Linked DNA regions of Homo sapiens: region 2 is linked to region 1. Evidence: fine-mapped expression QTL. A gene starts in region 1. The other region holds a variant in brackets. All regions are shown on one strand. Distances are from middle to middle. Region 1 holds the start of ZNF558 (zinc finger protein 558). Region 2 holds the start of MUC16 (mucin 16, cell surface associated).

Region 1 (12,519 bases):
GGGATTATTTGACATCTGTCATTTCCACAGGTGGCCTTGCCCTGGAGGAAGGTGATAGTGGGGCTGCTGATCTTTTTTTTTTTTTTTTTTTTTTTTTTTTTTTGAGATGGAGTCTTGCTCTGTCGTCCAGGCTGGAGTGCAGTGCAGTGATGCGATCTCGGCTCACTGCAACCTCTGCCTCCTGGGTTCAAGCGATTCTCCTGCCTCAGCCTCCTGAGTAGCTGGGACTACAGGTGTGCACCACCACGCCCAGCTTATTTTTTGTATTTTTAGTAGAGACGGGGTTTCACCATGTTATCCAGGATGGTCTCAATCTCTTGATGTCATGATCCGCCCGCCTCGGCCTCCCAAAGTGCTGGGATTACAGGCGTGAGCCACCGTGCCTGGCCAGGGCTGCTGATCTTCTGGGTAGAATTTCAGCCTTGCTGTCTCCTGTGTATAAGGAACTCTGCCTGCTCCATCTTGGTCCCTTCCAGTTGTTTCACTTCAAGTTTCTTTACCTCCTTCTCTTCCTTACTAACCAAAATATGGAATGAAATATTTAGTAGCAATTATTTTATGCGTCATCTGGTTAGGTGGAAGCTACTAGTTGTTTTTACTCTAGCAGAATTAAGGTAGCCGGAAGTGACTATCAGAGTATAAAGTATCCTCAGATCTCAGGTACTCTGTGGGAAAGCAAGAACTTGTCTTGTCCATGAGGCCAGTGTGAAGGGTGAGGGTCTTTATCCCTGTCACAAGGCTTGAGGCAAAACTTTGCACTCTGCCTTCTGCCCTCCAGCCAGAGAAGTTTCTAGCCACCCCCATTCGAGGCAGAAAGGGTCCAGGCATTAAGTGGTTGTCGAGCCCTGGAATTTTATATTCCTAGACTTTGTGGGTTACAACATGGATACACACTGCCGACTTCATTCTGCAGCCAGCTTCTCACATCTAACAATATATCCCGATTGTAATTTAATATAACTAAATGTACATTGACATTGTTGTTTTAAGGCCCATGAATGTCATTTCATACGGCTACACCAGTACTTATTTTGCCATTGTTACTAATCTTCTGTCATATTAAATAGGAGGTAGATGATCAATCCTTTTTAACAAGGTTCAAACATTTCTCTGATTTAGATCACTGTAAAATTGCTGGGTTGATAAATATGCACATTCGTACAGCTTTGGGTATATGTTACCAAGTACCTGCTGAGAAACTGGTACTTATCAATGCTGCTAGCAGAGGGCGAGGTCATTCATTTCTTCATGTCTTGACAAACTGGCCATTTAAAATGTTTTGCATTACTTGAGAGGCACAAACATAATGCCATTATTTTAATTTATGCCTCTTTGCTAATTAGAGTATTGGGCAGTTGTATGTATTTGTAAAGGAGTGTGTGGTTCATAGCCTTTGTCTTTGATGATGTTTTTACTGGCTTGTTCATCTTTTGCTTATTTATCCAAAATATTCTTTATGTAATAATGATATGAGCCCACATGTCATAGATTTTTACAATTATTTATCCCCAGTTTGTTTTGCCATTTAATAATGTGATGGTGTGGAAAATTAAGATACACTTAAGCTGGATACGATGGGGTCATGCCTAAAATCCCAGCACTTTGGGCAGCCAAGGCAAAGGGATTGCTTGCGCTCAGGAGTTCGAGACTAGCCTCTGTGGTGTGGCGAGTCCCTGTCTCTATAAAAAATACAAAAACTAGCTGGGCGTGGTGGTGCACGCCTGCAGTCCCAGCTACTCGGGAAGCTGAGGAGGGAGAATGACTTGAGCCCAGGAGGTCGAGGCTGCAATGAGCCATGTTTGCACCACTGCACTCCAGCCTGGGTGACAAAGCAAGATCCTGTCTCCAAAAAAAAAGAAAAAAGAAGAAAGAAGGAGGAGGAGAGGGGGGGAGGAGGAGGAAAAGGAAGAGAAGAAGGAGGAGGAGGAAAGAAGAAAGAAGAAGGAGGAGGACAAGGAGGAGGAGGAAGGGGAGGAGTAAGGAAGAAGGAAGAAAGGAGGAGGAGGAAGAGGAAGAAGAGAAGAACTCACATTTTTGTAGTATTTTACTTTTTCCACTTTTCTTCTATTATTTTGAGGAAGAAGCACTCATATTTATGTAGTATTTTATTTTTCCACTTTTATTCTCTTATTATGCCTAACTGAAGAATTTATGTGTATAATTCTACATTTTTTAAATAAAAACTTTATTGAGCTACCATAATATTCAACCTTTTAAAGTGTACAGTTTTTACACTTTTGTGTAAAATGGTTTTTAGTACATTCACACAGTTGCGCAATCGTCACCACTATCTAATCTTATTTTCATCTAAAATGAAATCCATACCATTACCCACTTCCCCTCATTTCCCTTTTCCCCAACATTTGCCACTAATCTATTGTCTCTTTGGATTTTCTTATTCTGGAAATTTTATTTAAATTGAATTATACAAAATGTGGGTTTTTTATGAGTGGCTTCTTTTACTTACCGTAATGTTTTCAAGGTTCATCCATGGAATATGTATTCTGTTTAATGGATGAATAATAATCCGTTGTGTGGATATACCACATTTTATTTATCCATTCATCAGTTGACTGATATTTGGGACATACAAAATTTTGGGCTATTATGTATAATGCTGCTATGAACATTCATGTACAAGCTGTCATGTGAACACATGTTTTCATTTCTCTTGGGCATATACTGGAAATAAAATTGCTGGGTCACGTGGCAACTCTATGACTTTTTGAGGAACTGCCAAACTATTTTGCAAAGTGGGTGCACCATTTTACAATCCTGACAGCAATGTATAAGAATTCCAATTTCTCCTTGTCTTTGCCAATCTTTGTTATTGGCTATCTTTTTAATTTTAATTATCCCAATGGGTGTGAAGTAGTATTTTATTGAAGTTTTGATATTAACTTCCCTAATGATTAATGGGGCCGAGCATCTTTTCATGTATATATTTGCCATTTGTGTATCTTCTTTGTAGAAATGACGATTCGAACTCTTTGTTCATTTTTCAGGCTGGGTGCAGTGGCTCACACCTGTAATCCCAGCACTTAGGGAGGCCAAGGTGGGCAGATCACTTGAGGTCAGGAGTTCAAGACCAGCCTGGCCAACATGGCAAAACCCTCTCTCTGCTAAAAATACAAAAATTAGCCAGGCGTGGTGGTGAACGCCTGTGGTCCCAGCTACTTGGGAGGCTGAGGCAGGAGAATCGCTTGAATCCAGGAGGCAGAGGATGCAGTGAGCCAAAATGGTGCCACAGCACTCCAGCCTAGGTGACAGAAGGAGACTCCACCTCAAAAAGAAAAAAAAAAAAAAACTCTTTGTTCACTTTTAATTGGGTATCTTTTTATTGCTGAGTCGCAAGCCTTTATATATTTTGAATACAAGTCATGTATCAGATAAATCATTTGTAAATGTCTTCACCCAGTCCATGTTTGTCTTTTTTCTTGATGGTGTCCTTTGAAGCATCAATGTTTTTTAATGTTAAGTCCAATTTATATATTTTTTCTTTCGCCACCTGTTTTTGATGTCATATCTAAGAAACAATTGCCTAACCCAAGATCACAAAGTTTGACACCTATGTTTTCTTCCAAGAAGTTTATAGTTTTAGCTCTTACCTTTAGGTCTATGATCTATTTTGAGCTCACTTTTGTACATGGTGTGAAGTAGAGGTCCAATTTCATTCTCTGTTTTTTGTTTGTTTCTTGGTTGGTTGGTTTTTTTTTTGTTTTTTTTTGGTTTTGGTTTGTTTTTTTTTTTTGATGGAGTCTCGCTCTGTTCTCAGGCTGGAGTGCAGTGGGGTGATCTCGGCTCACTGCAATCTCCACCTCCTGGGTTCAAACGATTCTTCTGCCTCAGTCTCCCGAGTAGCTGGGACTATAGGCGCCCGCCACCACGCCCAGCTAATTTTGGTATTTTTAGTAGAGACGGGGTTTCACCATGTTAGCCAGGATGGTCTCGATATCTTGACCTCGTGATCTGCCTGCCTCAGCCTCCCAAAGTGCTGGGGTTACAGGCGTGAGCCACCACGCCCAGCCCAATTTCATTCTTTTGTATATTGGCATCTAGTTGTCCCAGCACAATTTGTTGAAGAGAACAGTCTTTCCACAGTGAACTTTCCTAGTATATTGAATTTTGAACTTGTTCATTTTTGCTTAAACTTCCTTCAGCCACCTGAAAATGGATATTTTTGGGAAGCAGAGATCTAACTATTTTTTTCTGAAAGGACGGGTGCATGAAACAATATCATTCATTGAAAGTATTTCTTCCTGGCTGATTTTAAATGTTACCACTCTCTTACATAAAATTTTTTCCCTTTGCACTTACCAGTATCTTTTTTTGTTTATGGTTTTTGGTTTTTGTTTTGTTTTGTTTTTTGAGATGGAGTCTTGCTCGTCACCCGGGCTGGAGTGCACCGGCTGCAATCTCGGCTCACTTCAACCTCCACCTCCCGAGTTCAAGCTATTCTCCTGCCTCAGCCTCCCAAGTACCTGGGATTACAAGGCATCCGCCACCACGCCCGGCTAATTTTGTATTTTTAGTAGAGACGGGGTTTCACCATGTTGGCAGGCTGGTCTCGAACTCCTGACCTCAGGTGATCTGCCTGCCTCGGCCTCCCAAAGTGTTGGGATTACAAGCGTAAGCCACCAGGTCCAACCAGCACTTAGTGGTATCTAACGCACCAACCCACCATGTATTCTATTTATCACATTCACTGTCCATTTCTCCTGCCCAACTCACAACTAAAATGCACGTTCTCTGAGGGCAAGGACGTTTACCTATTTTGTTCAGTCTATATCCATGGTGTATAAAACAGAGACTTGTTGGGGGGGAGGTAATAGCATTTATTCCATGAATATGACTACGGCATACACACATACACACACATACATGTCCACACTATATCTGGAAAGATAGAGGAGAAAATTATTTTTGCCTCTGAGCAAAAGAACTGAAAGACCGTGGTGGGAGAATATTTGACTGACTTTGTACCATTCTTAAGTTTTCCTATATGTGTATCTATGACCCAGTCCTCTCCTGCTCCCCTAAACTCTTAGTGTTAAATCACTATGTTCTGCCTTGGGAAAGCAAGTTATAGACAAATGTGCATACATAATCTGATCCTATTGGGTTGTATGAACATGGGGCAGTAACTGTATCAACAATCTAGGGATCCAAGGAAGGCCCTACCCCTGAATCTGATCTCCCACAATCCTGGCTCCTGGGCCTATCCCAACCCACCCACATCATACACCCTTTTATTCATACCCAGATCCCTGCCCCTGGAACTGGTCTCCACCCACTGCCCCCTCCCCAGGCCTGGTGCAGCCCACAGTCCCGCCCCCAGAACTGGTCTCCGCCCACAGTCAGCCCCGCCCCCAGGCTTGCTGCCACCCCATAGCTCCGCCCCTAGAACTGCTCTCTGCCAATCACCACTGCCCTCCAAGACCGGTACACCCACAGCCTAGTCCCCGCCCTCCGCCCGGCCCGGAGCTTATCTCCGCCCACAGCCAGCCCCAACCTCCAGGGCTGTCACAACCACAGCCTGGTTCCCGCTCAGCCCCGCCCCGGAAATGGAGGTCTCCACCCCTGTAACTGGTCTCTGCTCAGTCATCCCCGCTCTAGAAGCCTTATACCATCCGCCCCGAGAACTGGGCCCCACCCACAGCCCCGACCCTGGAACTGGTCTCTGCCCAATCAGCCTCGCCCTCCAGGCCTGGTACGGCCTCAGCCGGTTCCCCGCCTTCAGCCCCGCCCCGGAACTGATCTCCGCCCACAACCAGCCCCGCCCCCAGGCCTCGTGCGGCTCACAGCCTGGCCCCGCCCCCAGGGCCAACCTTACCCCCGCTACTGCCCCAGGCCAGGGCCCAACTTTGTGCCCACTAAGCAAACTAGAACACCTCTGCCCAAGGCTGGGGTTCGCGGCCGCCGCTCCCGCCCGCCGCGCCTGTCGCCTAAGCGCCGAACCCCCAACACGCTCGACTCTGCGAGGCTGCCCGCGCGAGCCGGAAGGGGACGTGCAGCGCACCTCTCCCCAGACCGGAAGCGGAAGCGCGGGGCGGTACCGTGGGAGGGGCCGCGCGTGGGGCAGCGGGGAGCGAGTCCCTCCGTCCCCGCGAGTCGGCGCTTTTGGCCCCGCGGGAGGGGCCGGGCTCGGTGAGCGACTGGCGGGGGCTCGGGTCCGAGTCCAGGGGGCGACGTGGGCCGCGGACACCGCCAGCCACGGGCCCTGCGTCCCTCCAGGGAGCCGTGTTTCGGTTCATGAGGCCTCGGGCTGTGAGCTTAGGTCAGCACGAAGCTGCTGCTTGCTCCTGGGTCGGGGCCCCGCGCCGCTGTTGCCTCCTCAGGGAACCCCAGTCGCCCTCACCCGGGGCGATTCCGCACCCCAGGGGACTTTTGGCTGTAGCTGGAGACGACTGTGGTTTTCACAAATTGTGGGGAGGGGAGGCTGCTACTGTCACCTAGAGGGTGGAGGCCGGGGAAGAGGGACGCTGCTTGCTCTTAAAGATCCTACGTTGTACAGGACAGTCCCCCACAACAAAGAATTATCAGTAGTGCCAGGTTGGGAAACCCTGCTCTAGGGCCTTAAAAAAAAAATCTCTGCAGTTCTGAATAAACTACATAAATTGTTAAAAATTCAGTTTAGTCACTTAATAGGGCCTCTAAGTGACAAGATATTTTTAAAGCCTGTGGAGTCACCATAGAATCTCTCTCCAGCGTAGTAAGTTGAGCAAGTCAAATGCACACAGCGTTAAGCTGCTTTCTCCCCTCTTACGGAGCAGATGGCCAGATGGGAATCAGGTAAAGCCAGTCATGGCCCACAGGCTGGGCCCTTATTACACATTTAATCATTGAGTACCCAAAAAAAGTGAATGGGATGGTGTTTCCGGCAGCCGTATCCAACAACTGTACAACCTATACAAAGCCTCGAAAGAAATCTTTGTGTCTTTTTTTTTTTTTCAGATGAGAAAAGCATCATTCAAGCTCAGATTCGTGTTGAAGCCTGCCACAAGGTCCACCTGTTGTTGTGGGTTTTTGGGTGACCAGGTGAGTACAGTGTGGAACCTACAACAAGGTTTCAGCAGGCTCTGCTGTGTAGAAGAACTCCTCGTGGGCTTTTCCTGTGCTGGGGTTGTAACCACATTGAAGTCACTAAGAGTGAAGGTATCTTAAGGAAAGTTCAAGGTAAAAAGACAGAGGTGTTTATGGTTACATGTGTGTAAATAAGTAAATACAGTTACATGCAAATAAGTATCCACAAAACAAACATACAAATAACGTAAAGATGTGTAACTGTAGCTAAAGACAGATTTTCTGGTATGCCGTAATGCTAAAAGTTTCTGAATTTTATATAAGTATAGAAAATATTTACATGTATATGTAGTGTTACAAGTCTTCCCACTAACAACTAGCAGGACTACTTAGCAACATTTTTCAGGCCTGTTTGATTTGACTTTTTTTTTTTTTCTTGAGACCAAGTCTCACTCTGTTGGCCAGGTTGGAGTGCAGTGGCGCGATCTTGGCTCATGTCAACCTCCACCTCCCAGACTCAAGCAAATCTCCTGCCTCAGTTTCCTGAGTAGCTGGGACTACAGGCAAGTGCCACCACGCCCAGCTAATTTTGTTTGTATTTTTAGTAGAGACAGGTTTTTGCCATGTTGGCCAGGCTGGTCTTTAACTCCTGACCTCAAGTGGTCCGCCCACCTCAGCCTCCCAAAGTGCTGGGATTACAGGCAAGAGCCACCGCACCCAGCTGTTGATTTGATTTCTAAAGGCATATTGGCCCTCCACCAAACTTCAAAATATAAGGGCATTTGTAAAAAGGATGATTTATTAGTAACAAATTTAAAATTAAATTGACCGGCGACCAGATGTGTTTTGAGTAATGGGATTTTTTTTTTCCTAATGAGATTTGAAAACATTTGGAAGAATATTAAGCAACAACTTATAGATTGAAGGGTAGGGAACTGGTTTCCAAAAAGATTGTCCTCTGCACCTTGCCTCCTGTATTAGTCCTTTTTCACACTGCTATAAAGAACTACCTGAGAGTTTTCACACTGCTATAAATAACTCCCTGAGACTGAGTGACTTACAAAGGAAAGAAGTTTAATTGACTCAGTTCTGCATGGCGGGGGAGGCCTCAGGAAACTTACGATCATGGCAGAAAGCAAAGGGAAAGCAAGGCACGTCTTACATGGCAGCAGGAGAGAGAGAGAAGACATAAACGCCAAACTTCTAAACCATCAGATCTTGTGGGAACTTACTATCAGGAGAACAGCAAGGGGGAAGTCCGCCCCCATGATTCAGTCACCTCCTACCAGGACCCTCCTCTGACACATAGGGATTATTACAACTCGAGATGAGATTTGGGTGGGGGGACACAGAGCCAACGATATCACCTCCTAATAGGAATTAACTTTGTTTCTTAAAACTTCTCTGAAATAACAGTATGGTGATTCATATTGCAGAGAATCATGTTAAGTAATCTAGTATTAAATTGTGGGGTTTCTACTAATTGTGTGTGTGTTCACCTTTTCCATTCTAGCTTTCCTACAGCATTCTTGAAGGAATGTTTACTTATCATGCAATAGATATTATTTGAGTGCACAGTTAATGGTGACCAACCATCCTCATTTTTTCAGGACCAAGGGGTTTGCTAGGGCACAGGGCATCCAGTGTTCAAACCGGGACAATCCTTGGCAAACCAGGTCGCCTCCATGAGTCAGGTCCTAGGTCAGATGCACAGGGACCCTGGAGGACCTGAAATGGCCCCTGTCCTACATAAAGTTTACCTTCTAACAGGGAAGATAAATTTTAAACCATGAATGACAGGAGTGATGTGGGAGCTTGGCACTAGTGAACTTGATCAGAGGGAACAGGGAAGCTTTCTTGGGAAGGATATTTAGCTTGAGAGCTTAAGTTGTTACAGAACCAAACTGGGGTCTGCTCACCTGGTGGTGCAGTGAAACCAGATGTCTATATTGAGGGTTGCTACGATAGATAGAAAGGCTTTTATTGCACAGCACTAAGCAAGGAGGACCAGACATTAAATGTTCAAATCCTGGCCTCCCCAGTGGCTTTTAGGCAAGGAATTTTTTTTTTTTTGAGATGGAGTCTCACTCTGTTACCCAGGCTGGAGTACTGTGTTGCAATCTCAGCTCACTGCAACCCCCGGCCTCCCGGGTTCAAGCAGTTCTGCCGCAGCCTCCTGAGTAGCTGGGATTACAGGCGCCTACCACCATGCCCGGTTAATTTTTGTATTTTCAGTAGAGACGGGGTTTCACCATGTTGGCCCGGCTGGTCTTAATCTCCTGACTTCGTGATCCACCCGCCTCAGCCTCCCAAAGTGCTGAGATGATACAGGCATGAGCCACCACACCCGGCCTTTTTTTTTTTTTTAATGAGACAGAATCTCACTTGGTCACCCAGGCTGGAGTGCAATGGCACGATCTCAGCTCACTGCAACGTCTGCCTCCCAGGTTCAAGTGATTTTCCTGCCTCAGCCTCCCCAGTCCCTAGGATTACAGGCACATACCACCACACCTGGCAAATTTTTTGTATTTTGAGTAGAGACAGAGTTTCACCATGTTAGCCAGGTTGGCCTCAAACTCCTGACCTCAGGTGATCCGCCTGCCTAGGCCTCCCAAAGTGCTGGGATTACAGACATGAGCCACCGTGCCCGGCTAGGCAAGGATTTCTGAAGGCAATGGTAAGTTACAGAAAAGCAGAAGCTACAGGCAAAATCATAAAGCAATACATGGAGGTTACACACTGGTTTAGACTTAAAAGGGCAAGGATGTCTTGAAGCAGGAGCTTGTCATAGGTAGATTCAAAGATTTTTCTGATTTGTAATTGGTTAAAGAAAAGAAGCTTTGTTTAAAAATTTAGAGTCAGTAGGAAAATGTTAACTGGCTGGGAGAAGTGACTTTCTCCAAGCCCCTCAAGAAGAAACTTAGCACAAAGAACGCTGAAGCTCAGCCTTCATGTCCCGCTTATCTGGGGTCTCTGAGCCAGCAGCTCCATTTGGTGGGGTCCTCAGTGGGAGTCCCAGCCTCTGAAAGGCAACTCAGGGACGCATGTTAAGATGTTATCTTTAGTTTCCATGGGGAAAGCGAACATCTCTGGAGCCTTAACTTCTTTGGCTGTTGTTTTAGGTTACTATTACCTTCCTGTTTAACAAGTTCCATATTTACTTTTGGGGCTAGCTGGATGCTCGGAATTTCCCTTAAAGGAACTTCAGGATTTTCCTTTATTTTCCCACTTGGGGTTCACAGGCCCCTGAAAAAGGGAATTGCTGCTCCATCTCCAAGTTGGGGTCAGATGTAGCTAGTCATAGGGCTCGACTAGAGTGAGGGGACAGGGTTATGTCCAAGAGAGCACTGCCGTCGAAGAAGCTGTGTAAGGAAAGGCCCTGCAGCAGGAGAGAGGCTGCCACGCTCCCTGCACTGGGAACACAGGGATGGCTGAAGCCGAGACAAGAACAGGGAAAGAAGCTGGGCGCAGTGGCTCACACCTGTAATCCCAGCACTTTAGGAGACCAAGGTGGGCTGATCACCTGATGTCAGAAGTTCAAGACCAGCCTGGCCAACATGGTGAAACCCCGTCTCTACTAAAAATACGAAAATTAGCTGGGTGTGGTGGTGCACACCTGTAGTCCCAGCTGCTCGGGAGGCTGAGACAAGAGAATTGCTTGAACCTGGGAGGCTGAGGTTGCAGTGAGCAGAGATTGCACCACTGCATTCAGCCTGGGTGTAAGAGTGAGACTCCTCAAAAAAAAAAAAAAAAAAAAAAAAGAATAGGGAAAGAAGTGTGACCAAGACCAAGATCAAGAGGGAGGCAGAACCATACTAGGCCTCACTTCAGACTCTGTTCTCAGGCCAGTGGGAAGACACTAAAGAGTTGTGGGCCAGAGGGTGATGCAATTTGCATGTAGTGTAAGCATGCAGATAACAAGGACTTCAGGATTCAGAAGGAAGACATTTAAGAGGCAAAAGAGGGGGTGTTTGGAGGTAGTTTAGGAATCAGATGATTGCTCCCAAAAAAAATAAAATTTATTTTCTCAGCCATACTAGTCACATTTCAAGTATTAGAGCAGAATTATAGAACATTTCCATCATCACCAGAAGTTGTGTTGGGCAGCTGACATAGAGTGGCCCATCTGCTGTGACCATCCTCCAGCACTGTATCCAGGGCAGGGCAGGTGTCACAGGATCTGTAAACTGAAGAGACCCCTCCTGTCCTAGTGGGAAATTTCTGCTTCCAGACAGCCTTGAATAGGGACTTGGGGCCTGAAAATGTCCCAGGTACCTTCTCTACTTGTTTTTTTCTTGGAGGCCCAGTGAGCTGGCTGGAGGCCAACCCCCCCTCACTCCCCAGCTCAGTGACTGGAACTACTGTGTGCCTACCTGCACATTAGGTCTGTTACGGGGAAAAAGGAGATACTTCCCCCTGTAGAGGGTAGGGAAGTTCTGCAGCAGTTGCCTGGGTCTGCTGAACTCACCCAAAGGGAAGGTGTGATGTGAAAGGCATGTTAGTTTCCTATTGATGCTATAACAAACTACCACAAATTCAGGGACTTAAAACAACACACATTTATCCTCTTGCCTTGCTGGAGGTCAGAAATCCTCAATAAGCTGGAAGGCCTGCATTCCCTCTAGAGCAGGAGTCCCCAGCCCCTGGGCCACGGACCAGTGCTTATAAACAGGGCTGCACAGCAAGATGTGAGTGGCAGGTGAGCGAAGCTTCATCTGTATTTACAGCCACTCCTCATTGCTCGCATTACCACCTGAGCTCCACCTCCTGGCCGATCAGTGGCAGCATTCGATTCTCATAGGAGCCCAAACCCTATTGTGAACTTTGCATGTGAGGGATCTGGATTGCACACTCCTTAGGAGAATCTAATTCCTGATGATCTGTTGCTGTCTCCCATCACCCCCAGATGGGACCATCTAGTTGCAGGAAAACAAGCTCAGGGCTCCCACTGACTCTATATTATGGTGAGTCGTATAATTATTTCATTATATATTACTGTGTAATATAATAGAAATAAAGTGCAGAATAAATGTAATGTGCTTATAAAACATCATCCTGAAACCATTCCCTGCCCAGCCCCACTGCCGCCCCGTGCTCCATGGAAAAATTGTCTTCCACGAAACCAGTCCCTGGTACCAGAAAGGTTGGGGACCACTGCTCTAGAGGCTCTAGGGGAGAACCCATTTCCTGCGTTTTTCATCTTGTAGAGGCCACCAGCCTTCCCTGACTGTGGCTTGTTCCTCCATCATCAACACCAGCAGGGCAGCATCTTCCAGTCTCTCTGTATGTTATCTCCTCCCTGCTACACACACGCTCCCTTCTTCTCTCATCTCATCCCATCCTTCTTTGAACTGACCCTCCTGTTTCCCTTTTATAAGGACCCCTGTAATCACAGTGGGCCCACCCAGCATCATCCCCCATGTCAGGATCCTTGCCTTCCTCACAGCTGCAGAATCCCTTTTGCCATGTAAGGGAGTAGATCCAGAGGTTCTGGGG
Region 2 (12,519 bases), 240 kb before region 1:
AGGCACAGGGCCGCAGCTTTCCCATAGAGAGCCCAGGAATATTTGCATTACCAGGAGAGAGTCAGGTTTCAGCGAGAATCTGAGGAAAATCCTCCAGAGAGTATCTAAAACGAGGTGAGGAAAGGGGAAAAGGCATTTTCCTTTAGGACGAACCTGAATTCCTTAGGATACAGCTGGTGAACAATAACATCTGTAACTCCCTCCTAGGTTTTTCAAAGGGAAGGAAGGAAGGTAGAAGGCCCTCTTGAGAAATGTCTTTTTTTTTTTAAGGGACCAGGTCTCCCTCTGTTGCCCAGGTTGAAGTACAGTGGCGCTATCATAGCTGACTGCAGCCTTGAACTCCTGGGTTCAAGCAAATCCTCCCACCTCAGCCTCCCAAGTAGCTAAGACTACAGGCAAGTGATTCTCCTGCCTCAGCCTCTCAAGGATTGCAAGCACCAGCCAAAAAGCCCAGCTAATTTTTGTATTTTTTGTAGAGATGGGGTTTCACCATATTGGCCAGGCTGGTCTCGAACTCCTGACTTCAGGTGATCCACCCTCCTTGGCCTCCTAAAGTGCTGGGATTTTCCCTTAACAAGCATCTATGGGTCGGGCGCGGTGGCTCACACCTGTAATCCCAGCACTTTGGGAGGCTGAGATGGGAGGATCACTTGAGCCCAGGACTTCAAGTTCATCCTGGGGAACATATATAGTGAGATTCGGTGTCTACAGAAAACTTTTTTTTTTTTTTTTTTTTAGACAGAGTCTCACTTTGTCGTCCAGGCTGGAGTGCAGTGGCACAATCTTGGCTCATTGCAATCTCTGTCTCCCAGGTTCAAGAGATTTTCCTGTCTCAGCCTCCCAAGTAGCTGGGATTACAGGCGCGCGCCACCACCCCCAGCTAATTTTGTATTTTTGGTAGAGACGGAGTTTCACCATGTCGGCCAGGCTGGTCTCAAACTCCTGACCTCAGGTGATCCGCCCGCCTCGGCCTCCCAAAGTGCTGGGATTACAGGCATTTGCCACTGCACCCGGCTTCTACAAAAAAATTTAAAAATTAGTCAAACGTGATGGCACATACCTATATAGTCCCAGCTACTTGGGAGGCTGAGGTGGGAGGATGGCTTGAACCCAGGAGGTAGAGGCTGCAGTGAGCCACTGCACCCCAGCCTGGGCGACAGAATGAGATCCCATCTCAAACATATAACCATAAACTTTGGATGTTAAGCATTTGCTGGAAAAAAAGAAAAAAGATAAATTAAAACAAAAAAATCCCCCATAAACTAAATGCCATGATATTTAAATACAAATCAAGTAATTCTGATGAAAGTTATGGCCAAGACATTTTACATTCTTTTTTTCAAAATCAGTCTTCAAAATCTCATCTCATGTGTATTTTACATGCACCACACATCTCTTCTGGTTTTTGTTTTGTTTTGTTTTGTTTTTGAGACAGAGTCTCTCTCTGTTGCCCAGGCTGGGGTGCAGTGGCACAATCTCAGCTCACTGCAACCTCTGCCTCCCGGGTTCAAGCGATTCTCCTGCCTCAGCCTCCCAAGTAGGTGGGATTACACACATGCGACACCATGCCCAGCTAATTTTTGTATTTATAGTAGAGATGAGGTTTTGCCATGTTGGTCAGGCTGGTCTCCAACTCCTAACCTCAGGTGATCCACCCACCTTGGCCTCCCAAAGTGCTGGGATTACGGGCGTGAGCCACCGTGCCCGGCCATAATAATACTTTTTTTTTCATTAAAAAAAAAAAAACTAAAAACAAGAAGGCTGGGCACGGTGGCTCATGCCTGTAATCCCAGCACTTTGGGAAGCTGAGGTGGGCAAATCACGAGGTCAGGAGTTCGAGACCATCCTGACCAATATGGAGAAACCCCATCTGTATTAAAAATACAAAAATTAGCCAGGCGTGGTGGCACGCGCTTGTAATCCCAGCTACTCGGGAGGCTGAGGCAGGAGAATCACTTGAACCTGGGAGACGGAGCTTGCAGTGAGCTGAGATTGCGCCACTGCACTCTGGCCTGGGCGACAGAGCGAGACTCTGTCTCAAAATAAATAAATAAGAAAAAAGAAAGAAAAATGAGGCTCAGAGAGGTTAGGTGACTTCCCCAAGGTCACACAGCAGGATGGAAACCCACACCTTCCTGTCCCTTGTCCACTCCCCTAGGCTTTGTGCCTCACTGGCTTCAGGGAGAGCAGCCATGTCATAAAACAGGTTCTGCCATGGGCCCTCAGCCTGGTTGTCCATGACACCAGCACTGACTGGAGGCCTGGTTCTCTGAGCCCCAGTTTGCTTTCGTGCAAAATGACTTTGCAATAGGCTGTGCCTTCCCTCGGGTATGGTGAGAAATTAAATTGTTAAATAAATTCCCAGGAATAAGGACAGGAAGTGTAGAGTTTCTTTCTTTTCCTTCTTTTTTTTTTTTTTTTTTTTTTTTTTTTTTTCTGAGATGGGGTTTCACTCTTGTTGCCCAGGCTGGAGTGCAATGGTGCGATCTTGACTGGTCTGGTCTGATGGTCTGGGTGGTGTCAGCTGATCCATCGAGTGCAGGGTCTGCAAACTATCTCAAGCACTGATTTTAGGTTTTACAATAGTGATGCTACCTCTGGGAGCAATCTGGGGACGTTCAGACTCTTGGACCCAGAGGCTGCATGACTCCTAAACTGTAATTTCTAATCTTGTAGCTAATTTGTTAGTCCTGCAAAGGCAGACTGGTTCCCAGGCAAGAAGTGGGTCTTTTAGGGAAAGGGCTGTTATCAGTTTTGTTTCAGAGTCAAACCATCAGCTGAATTCCTTCCCAAAGTTAGTTTGGCCTAAGCCCAGGAATGAACAAGGACAGCTTAAAGGTTAGAAGCATTTTAGAACTTTAAAGAGGGCCGGGTGTGGTGGCTCACGCCTGTAATCCCAGCACTTTGGGAGGCCAAGGAGGGCTGGTCACCTGAGGTCGGGAGTTCAAGACCAGTCTGACCAACATGGTGAAACCCCGTCTCTACTAAAAATACAAAAATTATCTGGGCGTCGTGGTGCACGCCTGTAATCCCAGCTACTCCGGAGGCTGAGGCAGGAGAATCGCTTGAATCTGGGAGGTGGAGTTTGAGGTGAGCCGAGACTGTGCCATTGCAGTCTAACCTGGGTGACAAGAGCGAAACTGTCTCAAAAAAAAAAAAAAAAAAAATTAGGCCGGGCGTGGTGGTTGAAGCCTGTAATCCTAGCACTTTGGGAGGCTGAGGCGGGTGGATCACCTGAGGTCAGAAGTTCAAGACCAGCCTGGCCAACATGGTAAAACCCCGTCTCTACTAAAAATACAAAAATTAGGTGGGCACAGTGGGGGGTGCCTGTAATCCCAGCTACTAGGGAGGCTGAGGCAGGAGAATCGCTTGAACCTGGGAGGTGGAGGTTGCAGTGAGCCGAGATCGTGCCACTGCACTCCAGCCTGGGCGACAGAGTAAGACCTTGTCTCCAAAAAAAAAAAAAAAGGAGGTTTCAAACTCTGGCACCAGGCTCCAGAAACTGTACGCTTAATCACTGGGCTTATTTGGTGGGGGGGCGGCTATGATGTAGGTAGTACATGCATTAGAATTTGTGGCGACCACCCAAACCCGGGGTATCCATTTCCCTTTGGCCTGACCCTGGGGTCCCAGCTTATGGAACACAGAGCAGGTGTTTACTTCAGCAGGAGCTGAGCAGTCCCAACACCCCTCCTCCTCCTCCATTCTGAGCACCTCTCCTCCACCCTCCAGGACCTTTTCCGTGATCACTGGGGGAAGACAATGGAATGGCAGCTTAGGGACAAAGGGAGAGCTCAGTTACTAATGCCACTTCTGGGCAGGGTTCCTGCATTCCTTAGGGGGGAAGGGAGCAACCGCTGCTGGATTCCCCGTGGGTTCAAGGAGCTGGAGGACCCAGGAGCCTAAATCTCTGCTCAGATCCTCTGAGCTCTGAGTCTGGTTTTCCCAAAAAACTAGATGGTTTTCCTTAAAAAAAAAAAAAGTTACCAGACACAAGTCAGCCGTGCCCCCGGGAGCTGCCTTTGAAAAGAGGAACCTGGCCAGGAGCAGTGCCTCACATCTGTAATCCCAGCACTTTGAGAGGCCAAGGTGGGCAGACCACGAGGTCAGGAGTTCAAGACCAGCCTGCCCAACATGGTGAAACCCCGTCTCTACTAACAATACAAAAATTAGCCAGGCTTGGTGGTGTGCGGCTATAGTCCCAGCTACTCAGGTGGCTGAGGCAGGAGAATCGCTTGAACCCAGGAGACAGAGGTTGCGGTGAGCCGAGATCGCACCACTGCACTCTAGCCTGGGTGACACAGCGAGACTCCGTCTCAAAAAAAAAAAAAAAGAAAAAAGAAAAGAGGAGCCTGGTGGCCAAGGTGCTGTCTCAAGCTTTGTAATCCCAGCATTCTGGGAGGCTGAGGCAGAAGGATGGCTTGAGCCCAGGAATTCAAGATCCAGCCTGGAGCCGAACTCACACCTGTAATCCCAATACTCTGGGAGGCTAAGGCAGGCAGATCACCTGAACTCAGGAGTTTGAGACCAGCCTGGCCAACATGGTGAAACCTTGTCTCTATTAGAAATACAAAAAAAAAAATTAGCCAGGTGTGGTGGCGAGCACCTGTAGTCCCAGCTACTTGGGAGGCTAGGCATGAAAATTACTTGAACCCGGGAGGCGGAGGTTGCAGTGAGCCAAGATCACACCACTATACTCAAACCTGGGTGTCAGAGCAAGGCTCGGTCCTCACCCCCCACCCACCCACCCCCACATAAAAAAAAACAAAAACCCTGGGCAACATATCCAGACCCAGTCTCTACAAAACAAAAAAGTATAAATCAGCTGGGCACGGTGGTACATGCCTGTAGTCCCAGTTACTCAGGAGACTGAGGCAGGTGGATTGCTTGGGCCCAAGAGTTTGAGGCTGCAGAGAGCTATGATTGCACCACTGCACTCCAGCCTGAGGAACAGAGTGAGACCCTGTCTCAAAAAAAAAAAAAAAAAAAAAAAATGGAAAAGAAAAGAAAAAGAAAGAGGAACCTGGTGGACAATTGTTTATTTTTAAATTTTCTTTATTTAAAAAGTTTAATGACAAATAATAATTGTATCTATTTATGGGGTACAATCTGATATTTTGATATTTGTATGTATATCTTGTGGAATTATTTAAGAAGCTAATTAACATAGCCATCAACTCACCTACTTATCGTGTGTGTGTGTGTGTGTGTGTGTGTGTGTGTGTGTGTGTGTGGTAAGAGCATTTAAAATAAACTTTTTTTTTTCTTAATAGCGACGTCGCTATGTAAAATAAACTCTTTTTAGCAATTTTCAAATATGTGGGCCGGGCATGGTGGCTCATACCTGTAATCCCAGCACTTTGGGAGGCCGAGGCAGGTGGATCACCTGAGGTCAGGAGTTCAAGACCAGCCTGACCAACATGGTGAAACCCCCGTCTCTACTAAAAATCCAAAAATTAGCTGGGTGTAGTGGCGTGTACCTGTAATCCCAGCTACTCAGCAGGCTGAGGCGGGAGAATCGCTTGAACCTGCGAGGCGGAGGTTTCAGTGAACTGTGATCGGGCCACTGCACTTCAGCCTGGGTGACAGAGCGAGACTCTGTCTCAAAAAAAAAAAAAAGAAATATGTAATACATTATTTTGACCTATAGTTACAATAGATCACTAGAACTTATTCCTGCTAACTAAAACATGTGTCCTTTGACCAACTAACTCTCTTCAGTCTTCCCACTTCCCCAGCCCTGGTAACCATCATTCTACTCTCTAATTCCATGAGTTTAACCTTTTTATTTTACTTATTTATTTTTGAGATGTAGTCTTGCTCTCTCACCAGGCTGGAGTGCAGTGGCGTGATCATGGCTCACTGCAACCTCTGTCTCCCAGTTCAAGCAATTCTCATGCCTCAGCCTCCCAAGTAACTGGGATCACAGGTACGATAACACACCCAGCTAATTTTTTTTTTTTGTAATTTTCATAGAGACGGGGTTTCGCCATGTTGGCCAGGCTGGTCTCAAACTCCCGACCTCAAGTGATCCTCCCGCCTTGGCCTCGCGAAGTGCTGGGATTACAGGCGTGAGCCACCTCGCCCGACCAATTTGATCTTTTCAGATACCACAGTTAAGCGAAATCGCACAGTATTTGTCTCACTGTGCCTGGCTTATTTCACTTCGCACAATGTCCCCCAGGTTCGTCCGTGTGGTCAAAAATGACAGTATTTCCTTCTTCTTTAAGGCTGTATAGTATTC[A/CA]TCGTGTGTGTGTGTGTGTGTGTGTGTGTGTGTGTGTGTGTGTATATATATACACACATTTTCTTTATCCATTTATCCATTGATAGAGACCCCAAATAGCCAAAGCCATCTCAAGCAAAATGAACAAAGCTGGAGACATCACACTCTCTGATTCCACATTATATGGCAAAGCTGGTGGGCAAATTTTAACTGGAAGGTTTTGAATACCTCCTCTGGGTGGTCCTCCTTGATTTCTCTCCACTCAAAGCCAACTCTATTTTCATTTTTTTTTTTTTTTTGAGACGGACTCACTCTGTCTCCCAGGCTGGAATGCAGTGGCACGATCTCGGCTCACTGCAACCTCCACCTCCCTGATGCAGGCAATTCTCTGCCACAGCCTCCCAAGTAGCTGGGATTACAGGTGCCCACTACCACGCCCAGCTAATTTTTTGTATTTTTAGTACAGACAGGGTTTCACCATGTTGGTCAGGCTGGTCTTGAACTCCTGACCTCATGATCCACCTGACCCAGCCTCCCAAAGTGCTGGGATTACAAGTGTGAGCCACCATGCCCAGCCCACTTATTCTTTAATTCACATATTTATTCATTTAGCAAGCATATTCTAAGTTGATAGGTGCTGGAGATAAGCAATAAGACTTAGATGACCAAGTGCAGTGGCTCATGCCTATAATCCCAGCACATTGGGAAGTAGAGTCGGGAGGATTGCTTGAGCTCAGGAGTTCGAGACCAGACTGGGCAACATGGTGAAACCCTGTCTCTACTAAAAATACAAAAATTAGCCAGATGTGGTGGTGCACACCTGTAACCCAGCTACTCGGGAGACTGAGGTGGGAGGATCACTTGAGCCTGGGAGGTGGAGGTTGCAGTGAGCTATCGCACCAGTGCACTCCAGCCTGGCGACAGAGCAAGACTCCATCTAAAAAAAAAAAAAATTACCCAGGTGTAGTGGCGTGCACCTGTAATCCCAGCTACTTGGGAGGCTGAGGCAGAAGAATCGCTTGAATCCTCCTGAGTAGCTGGGATTACAGGTGCCCACCACCACACCCAGCTGATTTTTGTATTTTTAGTAGAGATGGGGTTTCTCCATGTTGGTCAGGTTGGTCTCGAACTCCCGACCTCAGGTGATCCACCCTCCTCGGCCTCCCAAAGTGCTGGGATTACAGGCATGAGCCACTGCGCCCAGCCTGAAAACTGTTGCTGAATGCAGTCACATCGGAAGTAAAGGCTTCAACTTGTGAATTTGAGGGGGATACAATTCAGAGCGTCACAGAGAGAGAACATGAGGCTGCTGTGGAATAGCAGAGACTACCGCTTGCAGCAGGACCAGAGGCGTGATTTGCAGGGTCCAGTGCAAAGTGAAAATGGGAGCCTCTTTGCTCAAAAATTATTACAAATTATAAGATATTTAATGTTTTATTTGCCAATCATCCTTCAATAAAGCTGGGGAGGGAGGAATGTAAGTATAGGCTGGGCGCTGTGGCTCACGCCTGTAATCTCAGCACTTTGTGAGGCCAAGGCTGGCGGATCACTTGAGATAGGGAGTTCGAGACCAGCCTGACCAACATGGTGAAACCCTGTCTCTACTAAAAAATACAAAAATTAGCTGGGCATGGTGGTGTGTGCCTGTAGTCCTAGCTACTCGGGAGGCTGAGGTACAAGAATCGCTTGAACCGGGAGGCGGAGTTTGCTGTGAGACAAGATGGCACCACTGCATTCCAGCCTGGGCAACACAATAGGACTTCCTTTCAAAAAAAAAAAAAAAAGTAATGGGTAAATTGCAAAAGTGATTGTGGCCCATGAAAGTCGCAGTGCAGCTCTGGGTCTGGGGAACATTCTAGGGAGACTTTTCCTGACACCCGCAGCTGAGCCTGGCAGCTGAAACTCCCGCTCCCCTCAATGCCCATGGAGCCCTGTCTTCCTGGGAGCCCAGACAGGCAGAACCAAGGGCCCAGGGAGCCAATCAGGGCCTGGGAATAGGCGAGGGGATCCTTCCCAGCCCCGCCCAGCCTCGCAGGGATTAGGCTGACTGGGCACATTTGATACCCGCCAGATCTTAGGCACCTGGCCGCCTGGAGCTGCTGGACATGTCTCTGGGCTTGGCTGGGGGGCTGGAACGAGGGCAAAGAGCAGCCCCCAAGTCTTCCTGAAGCCGTGAATGGCTGGCCTGTGGCAGGGTGCCCCTGGAGGCCGGCGGTGGGCCCTGGTGTTACTAATGCTGAGATACCTGCTGCCCACAGGTAAGGGGATCTCTTGCTCCTTCTGGTCCTCTGGGGAGGAGGGAAATGAGTCCACAATGTCCCAGCCCATCCTCAAATGGCCTTGCATGTCAACCCCACTCCTTCCTTCCTTTTTTTGACAGGATCTTGCTCTGTTGCCCAGGCTGGAGTATGGTGGCATGATCACGGCTCACAGCAGCCTAGACCTCCAAACTCAAGTGCTTCTCCCAATTCAGCCTCCCAAGTAGCTGGGACCACAGATGTGTGCCACCTAGCTCAGCTAATTGTTTTTAAATATTTTGCAGAGACGAGGTCTCCCTGTGTTGGCCAGGTTGGTCTAGAACTCCCAGGCACAAGTGATCCTCCCGCCTTGGCCTCCCAAAGTGCTGGGATTACAGGCATGAGCCACTGCACCCAGCTTCCACTTTGTCCCCCTTTCCAGCTTGAGTCCCTACCCAATTGTCACCTCTTCTGTGTTCCCAACCACCCTCTTCCTTTCCTTCTCCCCCTTTACTTTCTTTTTCTTTTTTTTTTTGAGACAGAGTTTTGGTCTTGTCGCCCAGGCTGGAGTGCAATGGCGCGATCTCAGCAATTCTCCTGCCTCAGCCTCCGGAGTAGCTGGGATTACGGGCGCTAATGTTTTTGTATTTTCAGTAGAGATGGGGCCTGCGGACTTGGTCTTTCTGAGCCTCACTTTTCCCCATCTGCAAAAAGGGCATCATGATAATGATAATAGCATCTTGCTTGAGGGGCCTGTTGGGGCGATGCAGCTCTTGCCTGGCACAGAGGAAGTTTCAATGAGCAAGTGACCTTTGCTTTTATGAAGTGGGACGGTCACAGATGGCTTGAGGGACACAGAAGGGATCCTCTCTGTGTGGCACCCAAGAGAAACCTTATTTTTCATGCAAGCCTGGGGTGGGGGACATGTAGGATTCACAATCCCACGGGGAGCTTAGAGATATTGGCTGATGGTCTGATGGCCCCGTTTTATGGAGGAGCAAACTGAGGTTCAAAGGGTTCAGGATTTTCCCAAGGTCCTGTAGCAGGAGACGTGGGGCCAGTTCCCAATCTCTTCTCTCTTTCTCTCTCTCTCTTTTTTTTTTTTAATAATTCTTATTTTATTTTATTTATTTTATTTATTTTTTTTCGAGACGGAGTTTTGCTCTTGTTGCCCAGGCGGGAGTGCAATGGTGCCATCTCGGCTCACTGTAACCTCCGCCTTCCTGATTCAAGCAATTCTCCTGCCTCAGCTTCCCTAGTAGCTGGGATTACAGGCGTGTGCCACCACGCCCAGCTAATTTTGTATTTTTAGTAGAGATGGGTTTTCACTATGTTGGTCAGGCTGGTTTCAAACTCCTGATCTCAGGTGATCCGCCTGCCTCAGCCTGCCAAAGTGTTGGGATTACAGGCGTAAGCCACCACACCTGGCCAAGAATTTTTTTTTTTTTTTTTTTTGGTGGTGGTGGTTGTTTTTGAGACAGAGTGGAGTGCAGTGGCTCGAACTCGGCTCACTGCAAGCTCTGCCTCCCGGGTTCACGCCATTCTCCTGCCTCAGCCTCCCAAGTAGCTGGGACTACAGGCGCCCGCCGTCATGCCCGGCTAATTTGTTTTTGTATTTTTTAGTAGAGACGGGGTTTCACCATGTTAGCCAGGATGGTCTTGATCTCCTGATCTCATGATCTGCCCACCTCAGCCTCCCAAAATGCTGGGATTACAGGCATGAGCCACTGCGCCCAGCCCAAGAATTTTTATAAAAATAGAGAAAGGAGGCTGGGCGCGGTGGCTCATGCCTGTAATCCCAGCACTTTGGAAGGCTGAGGTGGGCGGATCACCTGAGGTCAGGAGTTCGAGACCAGCCTGGCCAACATGGTGAAACCCCGTCTCTAAAAATACAAAAATTAGCTGGGTGTGGTGGCAGGCGCCTGTAATCCCAGCTACTCAGGAAGCAGAGGCAAGAGAATCGCTTGAACCCAGGAGGCGGAGGTTGCATTGAGCCGAGATCATGCCATCGCACCCCAGCCTGGGGGACAGGAGCAAGACTTCGTCTCCAAAAAAATAAAAAATAAAAATAAATAAAAGTAGAGAAAAAGGGTCTCCCTATGTTGCCCAAGCTGGTCCTGAACTCCTGGACTCAAGCAATCCTCCTGCTTCATCTTCCCAAAGTGCTGGGATTACAGGCATGAGCCATCGCACCCGACCCCAGTCTCTCTTCTTTAACTGGCTCATGTTTCTCCTACCTCTCCTGGGAGGATCATGTAGTCAGTGAATGGGCATTTGTACATTGAGCCCCTGCTATGTGCCCCTGCAGGCTTTGAGGACTTACAGGACACTGGAGAAAAAGTAGACAAGACACTCAGAGGGAGCGATGAGGGATTTGGAGGTTGCATTAGTTTTCTGAGGCTGATATAACCAAGTACCATAGACTGGAGGCCTCAACAACAGAAATGTATCATCTCTCCGTTCTGCAGGCCGGAAGTTGGAGATGAAGGTGTCTGCAGGTTACCATGGTGGTTACCAGAGGCTGGGAAGGGTGTTGAGGAAGATGGATGAGGAGAGGTGGTAAAAAGATACATAATTACAGTTAGATGGGAGGAAAAAATTCAAGACATCTATTGTATAGCAGGGTGACGATAGTTAATGACAGTTTATTGTAGTCTTGAAAAATGCAGGCCGGGCTAGGTGGCTTATGCCTGTAATCCCGGCACTTTGGGAGGCCGAGATGGGCAGATCACCTGAGGTCAGGAGTTCGAGACCAGCCTGGCCAACATGGTGAAACCTCATCTGTATTAAAAATACAAAAAAAAAAATTAGCCAGGTGTGGTGGCTCACGCCTATAGTCCCAGCTACTTGGGTTGCTGAGGCACAATAATCGCTTGAACCTGGGAGGTGGAGGTTGCAATGAGCCAAGATCACGCCACTGCACTCCAGCCTGGGCAACAGAGTGAGACTTGATCTCAAAAAAGAGAAGGGAGAGAGAGAGAGAGAGAGAGGGAGAGGAAAGAAAGGAAGAAAAGAAAAGAAAAATGCAAAGAGAGGCCAGGCGCAGTGGCTCTTGCCTGTAATCCCAGTACTTTGGGATGCCGAGGTGGGAGAATTGCTTGAGCCCAGGAGTTCAGGACGAGCCTGGGCAACATTGTGAGACCCCCATCTCTGCAAAAAAATTTTTTTTTAATTAGCCAGGCCTGCAGTCCCAACATTTTGGGAGGCCAAGATGGGAGGATCACTTGAGCTCAGTAGTTTGAGAACAGCCTGGGCAATACAGCAAAACCTTCTCTACTAAAAATAAAATAAAAATTAGCCAGGCATGATGTTACGTGCCTGTAGTCCCAGCTACTCAGGAGGCTGAGGTCGGAGGATCATTTGGGTCCAGGAGGTTGAGGCTACAGTGAGGTATGATTGTTCGGCTGCACTCCAGCTTGGGCAACAGATTGAGACTCTGTCTCAAAGCAAAAAAAAAAAAAAAAAAAAAAAGGACAGAAAGAAAGTAAAGGCAGACAGCCAGGCACGGTGACTCACGCCTGTAATTCCACACTTTGGGAGGCCAAGGCAGGCGGATCACTTTAGCTCAAGAGTTCAAGACTAGCCTGGCCAACATGGCGAAACCCTGTCTCTACAAAAAATACAAAAATTAGCCAGGTGTGGTGGTGCACCCTTGTAGTCCCAGCTACTCAGGAGGCTGCGGTGGGAGGGTGACTTGAGCCCAGGAAGCAGAGGTTGCAGTGAGCTGAGATCATGCCACTGCACTCCAGCCTGGGTGACAGAGCCAGATCCTGTCTCTAAAAAATTTAAAAAACTAAAAAGGAATTAGCCCAGTGCCTGCCACATGGCCAACAGGATATGTTAGCTTTTATTGTAAAGGTAGGCCTCATTTCATTGTTACTAAGATAGGAGCTTGGCATGGTGCTGGCCCAGTGAGTCTCAGCTATCCTAAAAGCAAGGTGGTTATTACTATTAACTAAAATTGTTTGATCTGGGCTAGGATCTGTATTAAGCTCTTTGTCACCATTAGTCCTAGCAATGACTCTCCAAAATAGATGCTGTCAGACGTAACCCTAATTT

The links. PIP is the estimated chance that this variant, and not a neighbour inherited with it, causes the effect.
Region 2: its variant is the best candidate, but not a certain one, in a credible set for the expression of ZNF558 in unexposed skin (GTEx, PIP 0.60).

The regions. Positions count from the first base shown.
Region 1 is chr19:8,825,837-8,838,355 of GRCh38, reverse strand. It overlaps ZNF558 (zinc finger protein 558), which reads left to right and starts at 6,052. Exons shown (of 10, transcript NM_144693.3): 1 at 6,052-6,147; 2 at 6,955-7,038. MBD3L1 (methyl-CpG binding domain protein 3 like 1) reads right to left here and starts at 5,979. Exons shown (of 3, transcript NM_001393532.1): 1 at 5,834-5,979. RefSeq lists silencers at 5,243-5,502, 6,003-6,272.
Region 2 is chr19:9,061,522-9,074,040 of GRCh38, reverse strand. It overlaps MUC16 (mucin 16, cell surface associated), which reads left to right and starts at 8,290. Exons shown (of 94, transcript NM_001414686.1): 1 at 8,290-8,481. The coding sequence starts at 8,400. RefSeq lists enhancers at 2,799-3,732, 3,733-4,667. The variant A/CA (reference allele first, on the strand shown) is at 6,245.